Linked DNA regions of Homo sapiens. The gene in region 1 interacts genetically with each later gene. Each region holds a gene or a part of one and is shown on either strand. Other genes may lie near its edges. The genes, in order: ATXN10, UBA2, CDK12 and MTERF3.

Evidence for each region.
Region 2: changes in ATXN10 (region 1) and UBA2 together harm fitness less than expected from each alone (positive genetic interaction), as found in Homo sapiens cells (one large-scale study listed by BioGRID).
Region 3: changes in ATXN10 (region 1) and CDK12 together harm fitness less than expected from each alone (positive genetic interaction), as found in Homo sapiens cells (one large-scale study listed by BioGRID).
Region 4: changes in ATXN10 (region 1) and MTERF3 together harm fitness less than expected from each alone (positive genetic interaction), as found in Homo sapiens cells (one large-scale study listed by BioGRID).

Annotation. Positions count from the first base shown.
Region 1 is NC_000022.11:45,677,535-45,683,620, forward strand, and holds part of ATXN10 (ataxin-10), read left to right. Parts: intron 1-6,086. UniProt on the Homo sapiens protein: May play a role in the regulation of cytokinesis. May play a role in signaling by stimulating protein glycosylation. Induces neuritogenesis by activating the Ras-MAP kinase pathway and is necessary for the survival of cerebellar neurons.
Region 2 is NC_000019.10:34,436,932-34,443,017, forward strand, and holds part of UBA2 (SUMO-activating enzyme subunit 2), read left to right. Parts: intron 1-1,713; coding exon 1,714-1,835; intron 1,836-6,086. UniProt on the Homo sapiens protein: The heterodimer acts as an E1 ligase for SUMO1, SUMO2, SUMO3, and probably SUMO4. It mediates ATP-dependent activation of SUMO proteins followed by formation of a thioester bond between a SUMO protein and a conserved active site cysteine residue on UBA2/SAE2.
Region 3 is NC_000017.11:39,515,317-39,521,402, forward strand, and holds part of CDK12 (cyclin-dependent kinase 12), read left to right. Parts: intron 1-414; coding exon 415-492; intron 493-2,123; coding exon 2,124-2,240; intron 2,241-4,639; coding exon 4,640-4,771; intron 4,772-6,086. UniProt on the Homo sapiens protein: Cyclin-dependent kinase that phosphorylates the C-terminal domain (CTD) of the large subunit of RNA polymerase II (POLR2A), thereby acting as a key regulator of transcription elongation.
Region 4 is NC_000008.11:96,240,716-96,246,155, reverse strand, and holds part of MTERF3 (transcription termination factor 3, mitochondrial isoform 1 precursor), read left to right. Parts: intron 1-224; coding exon 225-296; intron 297-2,075; coding exon 2,076-2,237; intron 2,238-5,440.

The DNA.
Region 1 (6,086 bases):
GGCAAGTCCTGGACTTAGAGAAGTATTTAAAATATATATGATAAAGAAGTTGTTTCAGAATATATGAAGTACTCCTACCTACAACTCAATAAAAAAGACTCCTACAACTCAATTTAAAAATTGGGCAAAATCTGTGCTTTACAAAGAAAAATAAAGGCCAATAAGCGTATGATAAAGTGCTCCAAATCACTAGTTATTAGGGAAATGCAGTTAAAACTTCAGTGAGAGACTACTGCATGCCGTTTAGGATGGCTATTATCCAAAAAATGGAAAAGAACAAGTATCGTTGAGGATGTGGGGAAATGGGAACCCTTGTGTGTTGCTAGTGGACATGTAAAGTGGTGCTGCTACTATGGAAAATAATTTGGTGGGTCCTCAAAAAGCTAAACATGGAATATGACCAAGCAGTTTTACTCTTAGGTATGTGCCCGAAGAAAATGAAAAAGGACAAATTCTGTATGATTCTGCTTTTATGAAGTACCTAGAACAGACAAACTTGTAGAGACAGAAAGTAGATTAGAGGTTACTAGGATTTGGAGAGAGGGGAAATTGGGAGTTACTGCTTCATGTTTACAGAGTTTCTATTTGGGTGTTAAAAAAAATTTTGGAAGTAGAGGTGATAGTTGTACAACATTGTGAATATAATTAAAGCCATTGAACTGTAGACTTAAAATGAACAACATGGCAAATTTTATGTTATATATATGTATTTTACCACAGTTAAAAAAATTAATAATACAATGTACCAAAATCCATTTAATTGTACGCTTTAAGTGGGTGACTTTAGTGTGCCACGTGAACCCTATCTCAATAGTGCTGTTATAAACAAATCCATAGTAAGGTGCCTCTGCATCCCTATTAGAATGGCTATAATGAAAATGAGTGACACTGAATTTTGGTGGGCATGTGAAGCTATATATTTATGATTTTTAAAAAGTCACATTGTTTGGAGTAGAGGGGATGTGTTTAAAATGTGAACTCCTCCCTCACTGCTATTTTTGTTTCATAATAAAATAGCCTTTTATGTATCTTTTTCCCTACTCAGTAGTGCCTTTCTTGAAGGGAGGGACTTTATGGTGTTTCTTAGCAGGGTGCCTGGCCCATTTTGGGTACTCTGTAAATGTTGAACTGAACTGAATAGAGCAATGAAGAGCCAGTAGCTCCAGTGAGCCAATCAGTAATTACTCAAATTGCTAAAATGCTATTGATTAGTTTACCATGTAATTCATTCATTGACTCACACCACACATGATACATGTAAGATCTGTGCTTAGTGCTGCAGCTGTGATTGATAGGATAAAATTAACTATGTGTAGCTTACTTTGAACTACTGACATAGGAGTAGCTCACATGCTATTAAATTATTAAATTTAATACATTTGTAATTTGCTAAAAATGTATATTTGTAATTTATATTTACAAAATAAATTTGTAAATTTGTAAATATAAATGTCTTAAGCCTTCATTCCTTTGCTTATACACACTCTTCATTTTCCCTCAAGGTTGAGTTACCATTTCACTTCCTTTTGAAAGCCGTTTCTGACCTTCAGGTGCTTTTGCCCTGTATTCCCTTGGCACTCTGTGCTTACCTCTTTCAAAGAACTTCACATAATCACTTAATTACCTACCAGTCTCACTAGAGTGAGAGCAGCCCGAGGCCAGGACTCTTATTTACCTCTGTTTTCAGTACCAACTTTCAGGCCTACCACATAATGAGCATCCAATAGTATTTTTATTATTTTCTTGAACACCTGATTTTCTTGAGCCATGAGAGAGAAAATGAGAGCATACAAGAAAGACTTTAATTAGGAGGGGACAGGAAACGTTAAATATGACAGATGACTGATTTCAAGGGGTAAAAAATGACTTGGTATTGTTACTTGGTTGTATAAATATGTTGACTAACCTTCATAAAGAAAGTGAATAGATTAAGCACTTTAGAGGTCAACATACCACAGAGGTAAAAAATAAACCTATCCATCTGTGTATACACACGCACATGGATTTTCCCCGGACATTACTGAGCCTCTGGGCAGCAAGTGTCTTTAACTACACCAAAACACACAAAAACCCAAAAAACAAAAACCCACACGAGTCGTCAGCTTGGCTGAGGACGCCATATGGCGTTTTGACTCAACCATGATTCAGCTCAACTTTGTTGAGAGAGAACATCAATTAAGTTACACTATAAAAAGCATATTTTAGAGTGTGCTGGCAATTTCCTTTATTTTTACCTATGCCATGAGCTGGAATGCTACATGGAATTGTTTGGTAAGGTGTTCTGACTCAGCTTCAAAATACAGAAGTGGTCAGTGTGAGCCACCTCATACATTCAATTATCTTAAATGCATGAAGTAGACAGGAAAGAGTTTGAGCCAGCCGAAATAAATAAAACCAATCGAAATAAATAAGGTTAGGATTGTGACCACCAGTACCCTCAGAGCAGAGTTTCTCAGCTCTTTCATTCTTCCAGTCTTTTGTAGTGGTCACTGGACCCAAGGGCTTGGTCACTGGACTGTGGGCAATGACACTCAAAAGCAAAGGAACTGTGGGACTACCAGTAGGGTGAGCTGGGCCCTGTGATGGCCACAAGCTTAGAGAAGTTATTAGAGTTAACGAGATGATCCATAAGTGGGGGATGCTCTTTCATTATAGCTATTGAGGAGTTTGTGTACTGCTTAGAACAGTGTCTGGCACCTAATAGACACAGTTTAAGTGTTAGCGTTTTCGTTGTTGGTGTCATTGTCATCATCATCATCAATGAGAATATTATAAAACTATCAAAAGACATTTAAAAAGACTTAAGTGGTAAGATACACCATTGTATTATAGGAAACCTCAATAACAAAGACATCAATACCTCCCAAATTGACCTGTGGATTCAATGCCATTCATAATAAAATTGCAGCAGGGTTTTTGCTAGAAATTCACACAGATTTTCTAAGTTATATGAGAAACTCCTAGGTTTTCTCTTACTCTCTGAACTGTCATCCCTTTAAGGCTTTTTTGTTTTTTTGAGATAGGGTCTCACTGTGTCACCTAGGCTGGAGTGCAGTGGTGCCATCACAGCGCCACCATGCCCCGCTAATTAAAAATTTTTTTTTTTTTTGGTAGAGATTAGCTCTCACTATGTTTCCCAGGCTGGTCTTGAACTCCTGGGCTCAAGTGATCCTCCTGCCTCAGCCTCCCATAGTATTGCGATTACAGGTGTGAGCCACTGTTCCTGGAACCCTTTAAGGTTTTTTTACATGAATCCTCTTCTGACTCCCCAGTTCTTAAGATCCTTCTCTATGCCCTCAGCAAAATTCCCTGTATCCTGAACTTCTGTAAACATCCATTCATCTTCTTGATCTAAATGAAATATGGCTCTGAGGACATGCCTTTCCCAGGGTTCTTGAAAGTGGGAGGCTGTTTTCTCTCCTGCACTCAGTACAATGCTTGGCTCAAAGGTGTGGTAGTTCTCCTTGATTGTCATTGCTGCTTTCAGACCTTTTTCCTCCATAGACCACTCCAACTTTTAATCTCATGACATCAGAGTATCCCTTGTTTAATCACTTTTGTGGTTAAAAGAGACCTTTGGGTCAGTCTGCCTCATTCCTTGAAGAGTTTAGCCCTGGCTCACTTTTCACTCTATTTCTTCTCCTGTCTTAAATCTTCGTTATTTCATTGTTTATATAGATTTTCCTTTCATTATCCTGACCTCGAATTTCTTTGACTTTCTCTCCCTTAGTGAGCTTGACCTCCATCCCATCTCAGACACACATTGCCATACCTTACTTAGACTTTATCCATAACTGTAGCTGCCTTCCCCCACAATCTCGAGTCCCAATCCCTGTTTTATCTTCTCTTTAGGGCCCTTGCTTCATCAAGTCTTTAACCTCACCAGGACCTACAGTCTTTTGACCCTATTTCCTATTTACTACCCCTTTTGTTTTTCATTCCCCTTCTTAATGTTCACATTCCCATCTTGATCTGGCTTAGATCCATGGATGAGTAATAAGAGCATTTTTTAATGTACATCCTCAACTCCACTGCCTCCTCTCTAAACTTTGTTATGTTTGCCTGGTAAAACTCCAGCTCTGGTCAAATCCAACTTGTTACCTTTGCGACAGTACCCAAATAGCTGAACAAGGCTAGAGAAAAACATACAGCCGTGCAGACTGCTCTCACTTTAACTTGCTGATCACTAACTAACGTGGCCCTTAATGCTACCTGTCAGTCCCGCTGTTTGCCCTGGTCCCTTGACTCTCCTGCTCCCCGAGTCAGGTATTTCATGCTCCACCCTCTTCAAACCTCCATCCCATCTCCCTCATCCTCACTCTCAGCTCTCTGAAAATAGGAGCAACTAGAAGATAATTTCCAGGAACTCTCATCACCCTCTCTGCCCACCTACTTGTATCTGTGCCCGTAGCCTGCCTTTGCTTCTGGTCTGTGGATTAGCGATCTTGCTCTGAATATGAGCTCCCCTTAAGTTTGCACTAAATTCCATTGCCTTTTGCACACATTGCTCCAGCAGTCTTCTTCTCTCCCCCCTTAAAAATCATCAGTTTTACCCTTTCTATTGGATTGCACTCATCAGTTTATAGATCTGCTGTAATTTTTCCATACTAAGAAAAATCTCTCCCTCCATTTCCCTGAGTGATAATCCTTCCCGGATCTCAGAACTCAGTCCTCAGACCTCTTCTCTTTTCTGCCTATATTTACTTTCAGAGTATTCTCACTCAATCTTGTGGCTTTAATAACTTCCGTTTGCTGGTGACTAACATTTTTCTTTAGCTGGACTTCTTTGTTTTTTTTTTTGAGACAGGGTCTCGCTCTGTCACCCAGGCTGGAGTGCAGGGGCACGATCTGCAGCCCTGACCTCCCAGGCATAAGCAGTTCTTCCACCCCAGCCTCCCTTGTAGCTGAGACTACAGGCATCCACCACCACACCCGGCTATTTTTTAAATTTTTTTTGTAGAGACAGGGTCTTACCATGTTGCCCAGTCTGGTCTTGAACTCCTGGCCTCAGGTGATCCACCCACCTTGGCCTCCCAAAGTGCTGGGATTACAGGCATGAGCCACTGCACCTGGCTTAGCTAGATTTTTCTCCTGAATGCTAGACTTGTTTATTCACCTGACTACTTCACATTCTACTTGTATTTCTACTGATCCTCTCATCCACCAGATATCCTCAGAGTACTCTTGTTTCTGTAAACAATAAATACATCTTTCAATTTATGGCTCAGGCTAAAGTTTTGATGTCATCCTTCACTCCCCTTTTTTAGACACCCTCATAAGAATCCATCATCAAGTCCTATTGGCTCTATCTTTAAAATATCCAGAATTTGATTTCTGTTTACCGTATCTGCTGCTTTCCCTCTGCTCCAAAAACAGCCCCCTAACTGGTCTCCTGCTGTCGTCTCTTTCTCCCTTTAAGATTGATTCTTTACAAAGCAGCCAAAGAGATCCTTTTAACATGTAAGTCAGATGATGTCACCCCTCTGCTCAGAACCTTCCATGGGCCGGGCACGGTGGCTCACGCCTGTCATCCCAGCACTTTGGGAGGCCAAGGCAGGTGGATCACCTGAGGCCAGGAGTTTGAGACCAGCCTGGCCAACATGGTGAAACCCCATCTCTACTAAAAATACAAAAATTTGTTGGGCATGGTGGCACATGCCTGAAATTCTACCTACTTGGGAGGCTGAGGCATGAGAATTGCTTGAACTTGGGAGGCGGGGGTTGCAGTGAGCTGAGATCCTGCCTCTGCACTCCAGCCTGGGCAACAGAGCAAAACTCTGTCTCAAAAACAAAACGAAAAAAAGAACCTTCCATGGCTTCACATCAGGATAAAAGCCAGCGTCCTTCCGTGGCCTACTGTGCCTGTCCAGGGTGGCTCTGTCTTGTCTCTCTGAGTCGCACTTCTCTTTTCTCACTGGGGTTCATTGAAGCCAGCCCTGACTTCCCTGTGACGTGCTCTGTATGCCTTTGCCTCTAGTCCAAGCTCTTCTCCCAGCAAGATGCATAGTTGGCTCCCTCACCTTCTTTGGATCTGTGCTTAAATACTACTTTTAAAATAAGGTTTAAATAATATCTTATGTACAAAA
Region 2 (6,086 bases), on another chromosome or scaffold:
ACAGATCAAGACGGAAGTTCTCTGTCTGCATTGCAGTATGAGTCTCATGACTGCTTGCCATGTGGCTACCCTCAAGAAAGCATATTGGAAGGCTGAGGGCATCAGAAATGGTGTTTCAGAGAAAACTCTAAATCTGCTGCAATTTATATTAAAACAGTATTTGAGAGTTTTGATTCTTGAACAATTAGCCTGGCTAATTTTTGCATTTTTGGTAGAGATGAGGTTTTGCCATGTTAGCCAGGCTGGTCTCAAACTCCTGACCTCAGGTGATCCGCCTGCCTTGGCCTCCCAAAGTGCTGGGATTACAGGTATGAGCCACCACGCCCGGCCAGACATTGCTTTTTATATCCTTGTTACTGTGATTCTGACACACCACTGTGTATTAAGACTGAAGGTGGCTGGGCATGGTGGCTTACGCCTGTAATCCCAGCACTTTGGGAGGCCAAGGCGGGCGGATCACCTGAGGTAAGGAGTTCGAGACCAGCCTGGCCAACATGGTGAAACCCCATCTCTACTAAAAATACAAAATTTAGCTGGGTGTGGTGGCACGCACCTGTAATCCCAGCTACTTGGGAGGCTGAGGCAAAAGAATCACTTGAACCCGGGAGGCAGAGGTTGTGGTGAGCCTAGATCACGCCATTGCACTCCAACCTGGGCAACGAGCGAAATTCCGTCTCAGACAAAAAGAAAAAAAGAAGAGACTGAGGTTAGGAATATCTGAGATAATGAAAGATGATTCATTTGATAGTTTTGAAAAGTTGTCTCAGGTGTCATGTACTTCTTCCAAGGCATAAATTCCTTAAATTGTAATTTTAAACTTGAATGTGTATCAATAAAATGGGCTGGGCGCAGTGGCTCACGCCTGTAATCCCAGCACTTTTGGGAAGCCAAGGCGGGCGAATCACATGAAGTCAGGAGTTCAAGACCAAGCTGGCCAACATGGAAAAACCCCGTCTCTACTAAAAATATGAAAATTAGCTGGGAGTGGTGGGAGATGCCTGTAATCCCAGCTCTTTGGGAGCCTGAGGCAGGAGAATTGCTTGAACCTGGGAGGCGGAGATTGCAGCCAAGATTATGCCACTGTACTCCAGCCAGGGTGACAGAGCAAGACTCCGTCTCCCCACCGCCAAAAAGAAACGTATATCAATAAAATGAAGAGTATTTGGTTTAGTAACACCTAAGATTTTTCTGTGTAGGGAGATATATCTTGAAATTAATCTTGTAGTTTACTTAATTTCAGGAGATTATAAGGATATGGCTGTATTCCCCAGACCCACTTAGTTTTGCTCAAAAAAAAAAAAAAAACACATATAAGAAAATGGCTGCGAATAATATTTAGATAACATTTACAACTTTGAGAAATAATTTCTTGGAAAGCTGCTGTTTGTCTTTCCAGTAGTTTTTCTGTTTAGTGTGATCAAGGTAAACTCATATTTGACACTCAGGTGTAGTAATTTTTATTTGGGCTTGTAAGTCATGTTCACTGAACCAGGAGTCGGCGTCCTGGCACAGCCTTAGCTATGACTGGTAGATTCAGTTAGCTTTTGTGTTAGTTTATCATAAAGTAAGCATTTTGGAGTCACTAATATTTTAAAATTTCCTTGACAACGTAAAACGTAGTTGGAATATAGATGAATGAAGTGTTTATATTACCTTATAATGTTGAGAAACTGCCATCATGGAGTAAATTTTTCTCATATCCTGACTTCATAGGGTGTGACCGAGTGTTATGAGTGTCATCCTAAGCCGACCCAGAGAACCTTTCCTGGCTGTACAATTCGTAACACACCTTCAGAACCTATACATTGCATCGTTTGGGCAAAGTACTTGTTCAAGTAAGAGTGTATATTTCTTGGCATGCTTTTCGGTACTGATGATGGAAAATGGAGTCATTTTTATTTAATTACCTTGAAGAGATTGAACTCAGGATGTTTAAATATGGTGAAGGGATGCTTTAGTAGCTTTCTTGCAGTATTTCTTAGGTTAAATGTAGCTGGCCGGGTGCGGTGGCTCACACCTGTAATCCCGGCACTTTGGGAAACTGAGGTGGTCGGATCACCTGAGCGCAGGAGTTTGAGACCAGCGTGGCCAGCATGGTGAAACACATCTCTACTAAAAATACAAAAATTAGTTGGCCGTGATGGCGAGTGCCTGTAATCCCAGCTACTCGGGAGGCTGAGGCAAGAGAATTGCTTGAACCCAGGAGGTGGAGGTTGGAGTGAGCCGAGATCGCGCCACTGCACTCCAGCTTGGCAACAGAGTGAGAATTTGTCTCAAAAAAAAAAAAAAAAAATGTGGCCATGACTGTTCAGGAAACTTAGTCTTATATTGGAGACAGCCATGTAACTAAGCGATAAAAATCTTTATATTTGGAAATGTGAACATTTACTTACAAATAACCCATTGGTTATAAAAGAAATCACAATGGAAGTTAAAAATACTCTGTACTGATAATGATGAAAATGCTATACCAGAATGTATTGAATGTGGTGGTTGGCAAAAAGTTACAGATTTACATACATGAAGAAAGGCTGAACATTAATTACTAAATCTTTACTAAGAATCCAATTTAAGTTAGAAAATGAACCACAGAATACACTTTAAGAAATGAGAATGGTGTGGGCATGGTGGCTCATGCCTCTAATCCCAGCACTGTGGGAGGGTGAGATGGGAGGATCCCTTGAGCCCAGGAGTTTGAGACCAGCCTGGGAAACATGGCAAAACCGTGTCTCTACAAAAAATAGAAAAATGAGCCAGGTGTACCTGTACTCCCAGCTACTTGGGAGGCCGAGGTAGGAGGATCAGTTGAGCCTGGGAGGTTGAGGCTGCAGTGAACCGAGATAGTGCCACTGCACTCCAGCCTGGGTGATAGTGAGATCCTGTCTTAAAATGAAGAAAGAAAGAAAAAAAGAATGAGAAGGAAGGATATTAATTGAAGTAAGAGCACATTTGATTACAAAATAGAAGAGGAGTAAGTGAGAACTAAACGGGGAATACAGATAGCAGAGATTAAATAGGCTATAAGAAAAAAAAGGGATGATAATAAGACCATGGTAGTACATAAAAAATTTAAATGATCTGGGTAAATACATTTTTAAAAACTTACTAAGTGCCCAGTGCGGTGGCTCAGGCCTGCAATCCCAGCACTTTGGGAGGCTGAGGTGGGTGGGTCACTTGAGGCCAGGAGTTTGAGAACAGCCTGGCCAACATGGCGAAACCCCGTCTCTACTATAAATACAAAAATTAACCAGGCGTGGTGGTGGGCATCTGTAGTCCCAGCTACTTGGGAGACTGAGCCATGAGAATCACTTGAACCCAGTGGGTGGAGATTGGGCCACTGCACTCCAGCCTGGGGGACAGCATGAGATGATGTTTCAAAAAAAAAAAAAAAATGAAAGGAAAATAGAATGCCTGAATTTAGCAGTATACCTTAGAGCAATGTAAGTAGTTTAAATTATTCTAAATAATGCACCGAACCTATGTTATTTTTACAGATTCATTTCACAAAACTTGCAAGGAGTATATTGTAATATTAGCTAAACTCTCCCTGAGAAATTTTTAAAAGGGAATACTACTTAGCTTGTGTTATTAGGCTAGCAATGTCTTTGATAGCAAAACCTGTCAAGGCCATTATGGCATAAGAAACAATTGCTAGTCAGTCTCACACCTAAATAATAGATGCAAAAATCCTATGTAAAATATTAGCATATCCTGGGAATGGGCGCAGTGTATCATGCCTGTAATCTCAGCACTTGGAAGCTGAAGCGGGTGGATCACCTGAGGTCAGGAGTTCAAGACCAACTTGGCCAATATGGCGAAATCCTGTCTCTATTAAAAATACAAAATTAGCCGGACATGGTGGTGGGCGCCTATAATCCCAGCTACTTGGGAGGCTGAGGCAGGAGAATTGCTTGAACCCGGGAGGTGGAGGCTGCAGTGAGCCGAGATCGCTCTGCTGCGCTCCAGCCTGGGCAACAGAGCAAGACTCCATCTCAAAAAAAAAAAAAAAAAAATTACCATATGGATCTAGAATCATATAAAATAAAAAGTGTGTCTTGACCACGTGTCTATTCAGGAATACAAGCATGGTTTAAACTAGAAAATCTGTAAATGTCATTCACTCATTAGGAAATTAAAGATAAACTATATAGTTTTCATAGATACAGAGAAAGCATTTGGTAAAATTTAGCAAATGGCCTTTCATGATGAAAGTTTCTACTAAAACAGAATAAAAACTTACTAGGCCGGGCGAGGTGGCTCACGCCTGTAATCCCAGCACTTTGGGAGGCTGAGGCGAGCGGATCACGAGGTCAGGAGATCGAGACCATCCTGGCTAACACGGTGAAACCCCATCTCTACTACAAATAAAAAAAATTAGCCGGATGTGGTGGTGGGTGCCTGTAGTCCCAGCTGCTCAGGAGGCTGAGGCAGGAGAATGGCGTGAACCCGGGAGGCGGAGGTTGCAGTGAGCTGAGATTGCACCACTGCACTCCAGCCTGGGCGACAGAGCGATACTCCGTCTCAAAAAAATAAAAAATAAATAAATAGATAAAATTAAAAATAAAAAAACTTCTTACTAAAATGAGAATGTTCTCAACCCGATAAAGGGTATTTTGTAGAAACCTTCAGCAAACATTGTCTTTAATTTTTGCACTCAGAAAAGTATACATAACAGTGTCAACTTGATAAATGTTCACAAAAACTACACTTGGAAGCTTTATTTATTTGGCAAACATTTTTTTTCTTTGGGAGGCTGAGGTGGGTGAATCACTTGAGGCCAGGAGTTTGAGAACTGCCTGGGCAACATGGCGAAACCCTGTCTCTACTAAAAATACAAAAATTAGTGGGGTGTGGTGGCACACGCCTGTAGTCCCACCTACTCGGGAGGCTGAGCCATGAGAGCCGCTTGAACCTGGGAGGCGGAGGTTGAAGTGAATGGAGATCATGCTACTGCACTCCAACCTGGGGGACAGAGCGAGACTGTGTCTCAGAAAAAGACAAAAAAAAAAAAAAGATAATGTGGCCAGGTGCAGTGACACACACCTGTAATCCCGGCTCTTTAGGAGGCCAAGGCAGGAGGATTGCTTGAGCCCAGCAGTTTGAGAGCAGTGTGGGCAACATAGTGAAACCCCATCACTACAAAAAATTTAAAAATTAGCAAGGCATGGTGGCACATGCCTGTGGTCCCAGCTACTTGGGAGGCTGAGGTGAGAGGATCACTTGAGCCTAGGAGGTCGAGGCTGCAGTGAGCTGTGATCACACCACTGCACACTAGCCTTGGGGACAGTAAGACCCTGTCACACACACAAAAAAGATAATCTGGCAAAATTAATATGAGCAGCATTTTTCACTCGAAGGGAAACCTAAATAAGCAATAAGCAAGTTATGTTTTAATCATAAGACTTACTTGGAAAATTAAGTATAAGACCATAGTAAGCTACAGATGCTTCTCAGATACTTCCCGATAAACTCATCATAAATAAAAAATACCATTAAGTAAAAAATGATGCTTTTTTTGTTGTTGTTTTTTTGAGATGGAGTTTCGCTCTTGTTGCCCAGGCTGGAGTGCAGTGCAACTGCAATCTCTGCCTCCTGGGTTCAAGCGATTCTCCTGCTCAGCCTCTCGAGTGGCTGGGATTACAGGCGTCTGCCACCACGCCCAGCTAATATTTGTATTTTAGTAGATACAGGGTTTCACCTTGTTGGCCAGGCTGGTCTCAAACTCCTGACTTCGGTTGATCCACCCGCCTCGGCCTCCCAAAGTGTTGGGATTACACATGTGAGCCACCACGCCCAGCCAAAAATGCATTTTAATATAACCTCAATAAACCTGTTGTAAAGGTGAAAAATCATTGGTGGACCATTTTAAATTAGCGGCTGTCTACTATTTTGCACTCACTAGTTGGCAAAGCGTTAATTTTAGGAAGTGTTAACATGCCATTGTTGGGAGTGACTATCAGAGCTTTGAAATTATAGTTGGGTGGGGGGTTGTACAAAGGATTTCTGTAAGATAACTTTCATTAATCATATACTTGAGGAAATACTGGAAACTTTTATATCCATGAGTTATTAAACAGTTTTTAGGA
Region 3 (6,086 bases), on another chromosome or scaffold:
GAGCAGATTAATGACAAAAATGAATTCAAACTTTATAGAAACTAACTGCAGAGAGCATCCTTGTTTATTTATTTTTTGTTAGTATTGTTCTTTAATTTTGAGCAACCTTGTAAAATTGTCTTTAGTTATTTCCTTAATTACAATGGCATGATAGAAAAAGACTCTTGACTCCCTTTCTCTGATCATAGAGTGTCCTTAATAGGTGGCAAAAGTTTGATCTGCTGGCAAATTTAAATTCTTTATACTGTCTGTTTCACTGCAAGAAATATTTTCTCTTTGGAAACTCAGACACTGAAATTTGGGGCTATTTATCTTGGTTGCAATCCGACATATCAATAATGTAAAAATTTTTTGAGACACTTTAAATAGGCTCTAAGAATTTCTCTTCTGACCTCTCAATTTTACCTTTTCTAGATGTATTCTTGGGGAACTATTCACAAAGAAGCCTATTTTTCAAGCCAATCTGGAACTGGCTCAGCTAGAACTGATCAGGTACAGCTGTACATGTGCTCTTGAGTGCCCAGGTGTGATAGGTATTCTCATCCTCCAGTTTCTAACACTTTCTAGTCATTCTGAATGAGTTTATGTTTCTTATGTCCAAGTAAGTTTCTCTTTACTCAGTCAGGTTTACCATATATTTTGTCATAGGCTATACATATAAAGAAGTTTTATTTCACCTAATTTTTAGATCTTACTTTGCATATTTTTTATTAGCTCTTCATATAAAAGCATACCATTTTGGGGATGGCTCTTCCATTCATAGCTCAGATGAGATTAAATTTATTCAGCAAACATTTATTGAGCCTGTTATACAACAGATTACTTTTAACATTAAACTTTAGGATTCAGAGATAAAAAATAGGTCCCCGCCTTCAAAGAATTCAGAGTTTAGTAAGGTATATAGCATGTAAATAGTTATAAAATACAACCTATAATAGAAAATATGGGGAAAGCCCAGGATTGGGCTGGCATTTGGGTGGGTTTGTTTTTGTTTTGTTTTTTTCAATAAAATTAAAGGGAAGAATATAGCAGGCTAATGTTTTTTGTATTTTTTTTTTTAGACAGGGTCTCGCTCTGTCACCTAGACTGGAGTGCAGTGGTGTGATCATAGTTCACTGCAGCCTCAAACTCCTGCACTCAAGTGATCCTCCCACCTTACCCTCCTGAGTAGCTTGGACTACACCTGTAGTCCCAGCTATTTTTCGTTCATTTGTTTTGTAGAGATAGGGTCTCATTATGTTTGTTGCCTGGGCTGGAACTCCTGGGCTCAAACAGTCCTCCCACCTTGACCTCCCAAAGTGCTGGGATTACACACGTGAGCCACCACACCAGCCTAATGCAGACTTTTTTTTTTTTTTTTTTTTGAGATGGAATCTTGCTCTGTCACCCAGGCTGGAGTGCAGTGGCGTGATCTTGGCTCACTGCAAGCTCCACCTCCCAGGTTCAAGCCATTCTCCTGCCTCAGCCTCCCGAGTAGCTGGGACTACAGGTGCCCACCACCACACGCGGCTCATTTTTTTGTATTTTTAGTAGAGACGGGGTTTCACCATGTTAGCCAGGATGGTCTCGATCTCCTGACCTCATGATCCGCCCACCTCGGCCTCCCAAAGTGCTGGGATTACAGGCGTGAGCCACCGTGCCCGGCCAATGTAGACATTTTTTAAAGGTGATAAAGGTGATATTTTTGTTGTTGTTATTTGGTAAACTGTTGATTATCTCTCAAAATTTTCAGTCTTATACTCTCTTCTCATCTCACAGTTTACCCTATAGGGATACTATAGGATCATCTTAGCCCTTTGTAATTACTACTAACTGAACAGAACAAAACTGGTAATAAAAACCTGTATGGGGGGATTAAAACATTTCACAAATCCAAATAATGTGGATCATTTAGGATTATTATCCGAGTATTTTTTCTTTCCTCTGTTATAACCAGTTCTTTCTGTTCTCTGCCTTTCTGCCCTTAAAGCAGTAATGTCATATTTTCCTTTCTGCATGCCCTGTAATGTAATAACCAAAGATTCCCCAGACCTCAGGAGGTAATAATTTCTGCTTCTGAAACCTCCGGAATTCATGATGTTGACTCACTCACTCCATTGTTCTTGCTTTTGCTTTGTTTTCAGCCGACTTTGTGGTAGCCCTTGTCCAGCTGTGTGGCCTGATGTTATCAAACTGCCCTACTTCAACACCATGAAACCGAAGAAGCAATATCGAAGGCGTCTACGAGAAGAATTCTCTTTGTGAGTTTGGGGAAAATGAACATCTCGTTTCTGTGTCTGGCTGGTGTTGGGACTTGGCTTTTTCCTGGTCTGGGTAGTTAATGTTGTCCCAGTTTATCATGGCAACACAGTGTAGGAAAACATTTTAGTTTCGAACAGTATATGAGTTTTATCATAGCCCTTTTGTAATTTTCTCTTCTGAAGGCTTTAGACAATAGAAAACCATTTTATTTTGAACAATATATAAATTTTCTCATAGCCTTCTTGATCTTTCCATGAGAAAAAGAGAATGGAATTGTTGGCTTCATGGGTTTTGTTTGTTTGTTTTTTAAATTGAGACAGGGTCTTGCTGTGTTGTCCAGGCTGGAGTGCAGTGGCACGTTTAGGGCTCACTGCAGCCTTGACCTGCTGGGCTCAAGCAATCCTCCCACCTTAGCCTTCATTTTTTTTTTTTTTTTTTGAGACAGAGTCTCACTTTGCCACTTAGGCTGGAGTGCAGTGGCATGATCTTGGCTCACTGCAACCTCTGCCCCCCAAGTTCAAGTGATTCTCCTGCCTCAGCCTCCCAATGTAGTTGGGATTAGAGGCCTCTGCCACTGCACCCAGCTAATTTTTGTATTTTTAGTAGAGACAGGGTTTCAGCATGTTGGCCAGGCTGGTCTTGAACTCCTGACTTTGTGATCCACCCACCTCTGCCTTCCAAAGTGCTGGGATTATAGGCGTGAGCCTCTGAGTCCGGCCCCACCTTAGCCTTCTGAATAGCTGGGACCACAGGCACCCGCCACCACACCTGGCATTTTTTTTTTTTCCGTGTAGAGATAGGGTCTCCTAATGTTGCCCAGGCTGGTCTTGAGCTCCTGGGCTCAAGTGCTCTTCCTGCCTCAGCCCCCCAAATTGCTGGGCTTAAACTTTGAGAGGCTGAGGCAGGAAGATCACTCGTGCTACCACGCCTGGCCATGTTTTGGTTTTGTTTTCTTCTTACTTTTTTCCCTCTCTGTTATTTTATTTTACTTTTTTTAACTTTAATAGATGGATAGAACTGGCCATATTTTTGTGTGTGTCACCCAGGTTGGAGTGCAGTGACGCGATCTTGGCTCACCACAACCTTCGTCTCCCAGGTTCAAGGAATTCTCCTGCCTCAGCCTTCCAAGTAGCTGGAATTACAGGCACCCGCCACCATGCACAGTTAATTTTTGTATTTTTAGTAGAGATGGCATTTCACCATGTTGGCCAGGCTGGTCTTGAACTCCTGACCTCAAGTGATCTGCCCACCTCAGCCTCCCAAAGAGCTGGGATTATAGGTGTAAGCCCACCACACCTAGCCAGAATTGGCCATATTTTTTACTTGTGTTATAGCACAGCATTTCTCGTTTGTTTGTTTTTGAGATGGGGTTTCGCTCTTGTTGCCCAAGCCAGAGTGCAGTGGCATCATCTCGGCTCACTGCAACCTCCGCCTCCTGGGTTTAAGTGATTCTCCTGCCTTAGCCTCCTGAGTAGCAAGGATTACTGGCACGTGCCACCACACCCAGCTAATTTTTTGTATTTTTAGTAGAAACGGGGTTTCACCATGTTAGCCAGGCTGGTCTCGAACTCCTGACCTCAGATTATCTGCCCGCCTCGGCCCCACAAAGTGCTGGGATTACAGGCATGAGCTACTGTGCCCGGCCCAGCATTTCTTAAATCCTGTGTGGGAGCAAATCTGCTTGCTTGTGTTAGCCAACCTCCAGCTTGCTTTCTTTGGTTTTACATGGAAATTCAAAGACTTTTTTTTTTTTTTTTTTTTTTTTTTTGAGACCGTCTCACTCTGTCACCTAGGCTGGAGGAGTGCAGCAGTGTGATCTTGGCTCACTGCAACCTCCGCCTCCTGGGTCCAAGCGATTCTCAGCCCTCCAAGGAGCTAGAATTACAGGCGTGCATCACCATGCCTGGCTAATGGGGTTTCACTATGTTGGCCAGGCTGGTCCTGAACTCCTGGCCTCAAACGATCCACCCGCTTCAGCCTCCCAAAGTGCTGTGTGGGACTGTAGGCATGAGCCACCATTGCACATCCTTTTTTTTTTTTTTTTTAAAAAGAGATGGGCTCTTGCTCTGTTGCCCAGGCTGCAATGCAGTTGTGCAGTAAGAACTCATTGCAGCCTCAAATTCCTAGGCTCAAGTGATTTTCCAATGTCAGCCTCCCAAATAGCTGAGACTACAGGGTGCACAGCATTGCACCCAGCTAATTAAAAATATATATATATTTGTAGACATGAGGTTTCAGTATGTTGCCCAGGTTGATCTCAAACTTCTGGCCTCACGCAGTCCTACCTTGGCCTCCCAAAGTGCTGGAATTACAGGTGTGAGACCCTTTGAAACAAAATTACAAATTTGAGAACTGTAGGGTCATTGTGAACTTGTCCTTTCTGTGTTCTTTTCCATAGCATTCCTTCTGCAGCACTTGATTTATTGGACCACATGCTGACACTAGATCCTAGTAAGCGGTGCACAGCTGAACAGACCCTACAGAGCGACTTCCTTAAAGATGTCGAACTCAGCAAAATGGCTCCTCCAGAGTAAGTGCTGGTAGCCATGTTGTGACCCTAAATCTTTCCCTGGGCCTTAGACGATGAGAAACTCATAAAAGAACCACAGATGCCCAGTAAGACCCAAATGAAGAGGTGTCTTTGAGTATTATGGTTGAGGTTTGTTTTTTTTGTTTTATCTTTGTTGTTTTTTTCTTTATATAAGTAATAGATTTAGCTTTGATACTTGTTCTAATTTGACTCAAGCTATCTTCTTTTGTCCCTGGATCTCCATCCCAGAATATTGTTGTGTAGAGCCTCTTTGAAAGTATTCCTTTTAGATTTTTGTGGGTTGGTTTATTTATTTATTTATTTATTTTTGAGATGGAGTCTCTGTCGCCCAGGCTGGAATGCAGTGGTGCAACTCAGCTCACTGCAACCTCTGCAGGGTTCAAGCGATTCTCCTGCCTCAGCCTCCCGAGTAGCTGGGACTACAGACACACACCACCACACCCAGCTAATTTTTGTATTTTTAGTAGAGACGGGGTTACACCTTGCTGGCCCAGCTGGTCTCGAACTCCTGACCTCAGGTGACCCACCCTGGCCTCCGAAAGTGCTGGGATTACAGGCGTAAGCCACTGCGTCCAGCGTGTTTTTGTTGTTGTTGTTGTTGTTGTTGTTTTGAGATGGAATCTTGCTCTGCCTCCTCCACCTCCCGGGTTCTAGCGATTCTCCTGCCTTAGCCTTGCAAGTAGCTAGGATTACAGGTGCCTGCCACCACACCCGGCTAATTTTTTTGTATTTTTGTTTCATTTTGTTTTGTTTTTTGAGATGGAGTTTCGCTCTTGTTCCCCAGGCTGGAGTACAATGGCGCAATCTCAGCTCGCCGCAACCTCTGCTTCCCAGGTTCAAGCGATTCACCTGCCTCAGCCTTCCCAAGCTGAAATTACAGGCACGTGCCACCATGCCCAGCTAATTTTGTGTTTTTAGTAGAGACAGAGTTTCTCCATGTTGGTCAGGTTGGTCTCGAACTCCCGACCTCAGGTGATCTGCCCACCTCGGCCTCCCAAAGTGCTGGGATTACAGGCATGAGCCACAGTGCCTGGCCATTTTTTTGTATTTTTAGTAGAGATGGGGTTTCACCATGTTGGCCAGGCTGGTCTTGAACTCCTGCCCATCTTGGCCTCTCAAAGTGCTGGGATCACAGGTGTGAGCCACCGTGCCTGGCCTGTTTGTTTGTTTGTGTGTTTTGAGACGGAGTTTCACTCTTCGCATCCAGGCTGGAGTGCAGTGGTGTGATATTGGCTCACTGCAATCTCCGCCTCCCAGTTTCAAGCAATTCTCCTGCCTCAGCCTCCCAAGTAGC
Region 4 (5,440 bases), on another chromosome or scaffold:
ATAGAGCTCCATCATTTTATAATACTTAATCAAACTGGTTCCTTCAGTTTTTGTTTTCTTTTTTTCCAAACAGTATTAATCTTATCTATTCCTGGGGTTCCTATCATTTTTCTGATTGGGTCATATTTTAAGTTTTAACTTTGTATCTTAATAATGCCTTAATTTTCCAAACTAGTTAAAGATGCACGTATAGTAATACTAGATTGTTTTGTTTGCAACCACAGACTAGAGATCTGGTAGTTCGTCTCCCAAGGCTGCTAACTGGAAGTCTGGAACCCGTGAAAGAAAATATGAAGGTAGGACAACTTTAGGCTTTTTGAGAAATCAGTTTCTTTAAGTGTTAAAATCCTCTGAAGAGAACAGATTTTGCTATTGTCATGTAAAAGAAAACTAGACTTTAAAATAAGTTATTTCTAAAAAGAGAAATAGGAAATTATCTTTAACAAATGTCTAGCAAGCAGTTTGTTTCAGTTAATATTTTCACGTTGAGCAGGTATTAACCTGAGTAAATCACCTTGCAGACATTGATACCCACAATCCTAAAGCATTAGATAGGGATATAAGTGGTACCCTGAAACTGCTTCTGTTGCCCAGTGTGGGCGTCTGACGTCTTTGTTACCTGGGCAGTGTTACCAGTCTACGAAAGTACTCCTGTTGGCCAGCATGACAGTCTGTGTATGTCTCAGGGAGTTTTGGAGGCTGGATCCAAAAGACTTCTGTGAAAAGAGTAGCAGCCAGCACATTGTTCTCCTTTGCACCTGTCCCAATTGCCAGCTCTCATTCTGTCACAGAATGTACCAGACACTCTTTACTGTCCTTCCTCCAAGAGAATAAGATAAAGCCAAGAGCAGCTGACTAGTTAGTATATAAAGCTGTAGTAGTATTTGAAATATTATATAAGGGCTGTTTTCTGAGGTGAACAGTTCAGTCATTGAAGAAATCTTTTTATTGAGCTCCTGCCCAAGCGCCATGCTGAGGAGACAGCTTCTCCTCCCAAGGAGCTTACAATCTAGTGGGGGATCAAATCCAGAGTGATGGGGGCAGTTACTTGGTGGGGGCACACAGGACACTATGAAAGCAAGTAGAGGACCCGGCCTGTGTTTGGTTGTTTAGTTCCTCATCTCTGCTTGGAATGTTGACATGTCGTTTTTCAGACAACACATATGTGGGTGTACTTGGGAGCAAAAGCTCAAAAAGCATTTTGAAGATCCTGCTGCTGAAGGATCTGTTTGGTGTTGGGCCCATGCCTCTGACCTGCAGCGCTCCCATGTCACTCATTCCCTCTTGTAATTATGGTTGCCCCTTTGGTGAGCTTCATGACCATCATGGTGTAGCTCTTTCTCAGCAGAGGGGTTTGAAATTCTGGTGACCCCAGGAGCCGGAAGCTGTAATTCCTTGAAGGCACTGGCATAGCTGTCTCCAAATTTTAAAATGTTATTTTAAGTTTAAAAGAATCATGGTCAGGCGTGGTGGCTCATGCCTGTAACCCTGGCATGGGAGGCCGAGGTGGGCAGATCACTTGAGGTCAGGAGTTTGAGACCAGCCTGGCCAACATGGTGAAACCTCATCTCTACTAAAAATACAAAAATTAGCCAGGCATGGTGGTGGGCACCTGTAATCCCAGCTACTTAGAAGGCTGAGGCAGGAGAATCACTTGAATCCAAGAAACGGAGGTTGCAGTAAGCTGAGATCGTGCCACCGCACTCCAGCCTGGATGACAAAGCGAGACTCCGTCTCAAAAAAAAAAATCATGGCCAGGCGCGGTGGCTCACACCTGTAAGCACTTCGGGAGGCCAAGGTGGGTGGATCACTTGAGGTCAGGAGTTCAAGATCAGCCTGGCCAACATGGTGAAACCCTGGCTGTACTAAAAATACAAGAATTAGCCAGGTGTGGTGGCATTCCTCTGTAGTTCCAGTTACTTGGGAGACTGAGGCAGGAGATCATGCCACTGCACTCCATCCTGGGCAACATAGCGAGCTCCATCTCAAAAAAAAAAAAAATCAGTGCAGCCTTGCCATGGTACCAAAATAACTATTTCTACATAACGATTCATAGCAAATTTACTTTCTTTTAGGTTTATCGTCTTGAACTTGGTTTTAAACATAACGAAATTCAACATATGATCACCAGAATCCCAAAGATGTTAACTGCAAATAAAATGAAACTTACCGAGACGTTTGATTTTGTGCACAATGTGATGAGCATTCCCCACCACATCATTGTCAAGTTCCCACAGGTAATGCCACTCACAGCTCTCTCTGTAAGCGCTGCCATTGCGCTTCATTTGGAGCTGCTCTCCAGCTGCATAGTTCTGTACGCTGGGAAGAGTTTACAATTTGCAGGGCGCAAATGTCCATCTCCTGAGGAGAAATCAGTGATTAGTCTCTTTCCCTGGAGTTTCTACCTAGTCCTAGTTCTGATTGTTGGAATCAGGCCAACAAATCTAATGTAGTCTCTCTTCTCTCTCATGTTTTTCTCTACTTTACTTTGGAATAGATCACTTCCCTTAAAGGTCCTTTCACTGCTACGTGTACTTTTTAGTCACAGTTTATTTAAATTCATGAATCAATAAGCCATATTGTAATGATCCCCATCCCAATATAAAAGTGATCCAGTTTGCCATCATGCCAAAGCCGTAATTATATTTTCTAAGCTAATCAAGCTTCCATATTCTTTACCTAGTGAGTGATATTATCTGCTGTTCACAAGAATATTAATCTTGAATATTGACTCTTTAAAAGCAGAAACTTTGTCTGATTTATACACTGCCAAATCCTCAGTGCCTAGAACTACACCTGGCACTAAGTAGGCACACAATTAATATTTGTTGAACAAATGAATGATTGGATTTTATCAAAGTAATCCTTTTTTCCTATTTCCTATGCAAATAGCCACTCAGTATTTATTGGATAAATGACAAACTGAATTTTTATTTAAGTGATCCCTCTACTCCATTTGCTAGAACACATGTTCCTGTTTTTGAAAAAAGATGGGTAAAAGAAATATGACCTTAATACAACTCTCAGAACTAGACTGCATTAGGTCCAGTTCCTTCACATACAGCTATATTTATTTGCCTATTATACTTCACTAGGAACGGGCCTCTAATATAGGATTTTCCTATTTTACCAAACGTAAATATACCCATTATAGAAGTGTTAGAAGCCTACAGTTTTGTGAATTTGGCTCATGGAGTAATTGTGAAATAATCTTCAACGAAAAAGAAATGACAATTTGTTTTTCCCTGGGTTGGTGGGTAATTCATTTTTCCAGTATATCACTGAGCATCCATCAGTGCTACACATTGGGCACTGAGGATACAAAAGTCAAGCAGACATGATCTCTGTTCTTGTGGAACTTATAATCGAGTGTGGAAGACAGGTTTAAAAATAGAATTGCTTTATATGATGGTAGAGTCCTAACCAGAGCTCCTACAGTGATTTAGAAGCGGTAGGAGAATTATAGAAGTAATAACAGCAATTGAGTACTTACTGTGTGCCAGCTCTATCTTTATTGCTTTATTTGTATTAACACAGTTAATTCTCACAACAACCATATGAGGTAGATGCTATTATTACCCCTATTTTACACATAAAGAACTTAAGCTTAAAGAGATTTAAGTAACCTGTCCAAGGTTACCCAAGTAACAAGGTTGGGGCAGAACCACGATTAGAACTCCAACAGTCCAGTTTAAAAACCCAAGCCCTTTACTAGGATCTGCTAGAAGTACATTTGAATTGTCTGTAGAAGAGGGAGTGGTGTTTAAAAGATGGAGAGGAGCTTTCCAAATAGAAGAAATTATAAGCTGACCAGATGCATCAAAATCACTTAAAAACACAGATTTTAGGCACCCCAAACCCTTGCCTCAGAGAAGCTCTGTTGTAGAATTGTGGCTTCCAAATTGGGATTCTCAGATTCCTAGAGTCTAGGTGGAATTATTGGGGAATAAAAACAGAAAAATAAAAAGCTTATTAATGAAAAAATACATTAACGGACAGTAAGGCTGTGAATGGGCTGATATAGACTTTACATTTTTGGCTGGTGTTTAAATCTCAGTGGCATGGAACTAATTTTCTCATGTAGATAATATTCCTGGTTGGCAGATCTGACTTACGATTAATTAAAAATGGGGAAAGAAGTATAACTTAATAACTATGATCAATTTAGTCATTTCAAAGAAGAGATCTTGGAAGGTAAAGGATAACAAAAGCAGTTTTAGGGTAATGAATGTGAAGAAATCACTAGGCTAAGGAAAGAGGTTATATTCAGGATCCCCCGAAACCTTCACTCTCCCCTTCCTCTGTGACTTTCTGTGAAGGCAAAGTTGAAGTCCACCTTAGGATTAGAGGGAACCAATAATTCTCAGGCTAGGGGCACTTTTTTTAACTCCGAAGAATTTAATATGTCATTAATAGGATGAAATTTTTGTGCCAATGGCAAAGTAGCCCCTGGTGGCCAACAACTCTCCCCCCACACCACCACATCCATAAAAAAAGAAGGGAGAAACACCGCAATCTGAGCAGTAGCTTTTGGACTTGAAAGAGTACACAACTCTCTAATGATGGAGTAACTTTGGTCCACTGGAGAAGTAAACGTATAATATCTGCTCATAAGCTAAATAAATGCTTTGAAGTGTTATTATATTTAGGAAATTAGTAATCGTTTAGGAGCACCAGAACCATTTGTGGTTTTGTCTGTTGTTGGGTGATAGTTTTTTTTTGTTTTTTGTTTTTTTTGTTTTTTTTTGCGATGGAGTCTGGCTCTGTCGCCAGGCTGGAGTGCAGTGGCGTGATCTCGGCTCAGTGCAACCGCCGCCTCCCGGGTTCAAGTGATTCTTCTGACTCAGCCTCCTGAGTAGCTGGGACTACAAGCGCCTGCCACCATGCCCAGCTAATTTTTGTGTTTTTAGTAGAGACGAGGTTTCACCATGTTGGCCAGGATGGTCTCAAACTCTTGACTTCGTGATCCGCCCACCTTGGCCTCCCAAAGTGCTGGGATTACAGGTGTGAGCCACCGCGCCCGGCCGGGTGATAGTTTTTTAAGCCAAGAATCACTGCATAGGAGTCATACTTCTAAAAAAAAATCTATCTAAAACCTCTTACATCTTCGTTATCCATAATATTGTGATCATGGGAATTTAGTTATCAGAACAAGGGCAGAATAGCAGAGACTGAGAAGGGAGATGTTCTGTTCCAAAAGCAAGCCAAACCCATGTTGAGGTACACCCTGTGCTTTTTTTAGTCACTCTTCTCATAGTACTTTGGTTTTCAACAATTGCTTTTCATAGTGTCCTTTCCAACTGATCTGTTACTGTTTCCACTTGAATATAGGGAAAGAGGCCTAGGGGTTATGTGAACGCATCCCGTGTTCACATTATATCTGTAACAGCCAAGAGGAGAGCTTGAGGCAGGCATAATATTGAAAGGGCTTCCTCTGAGC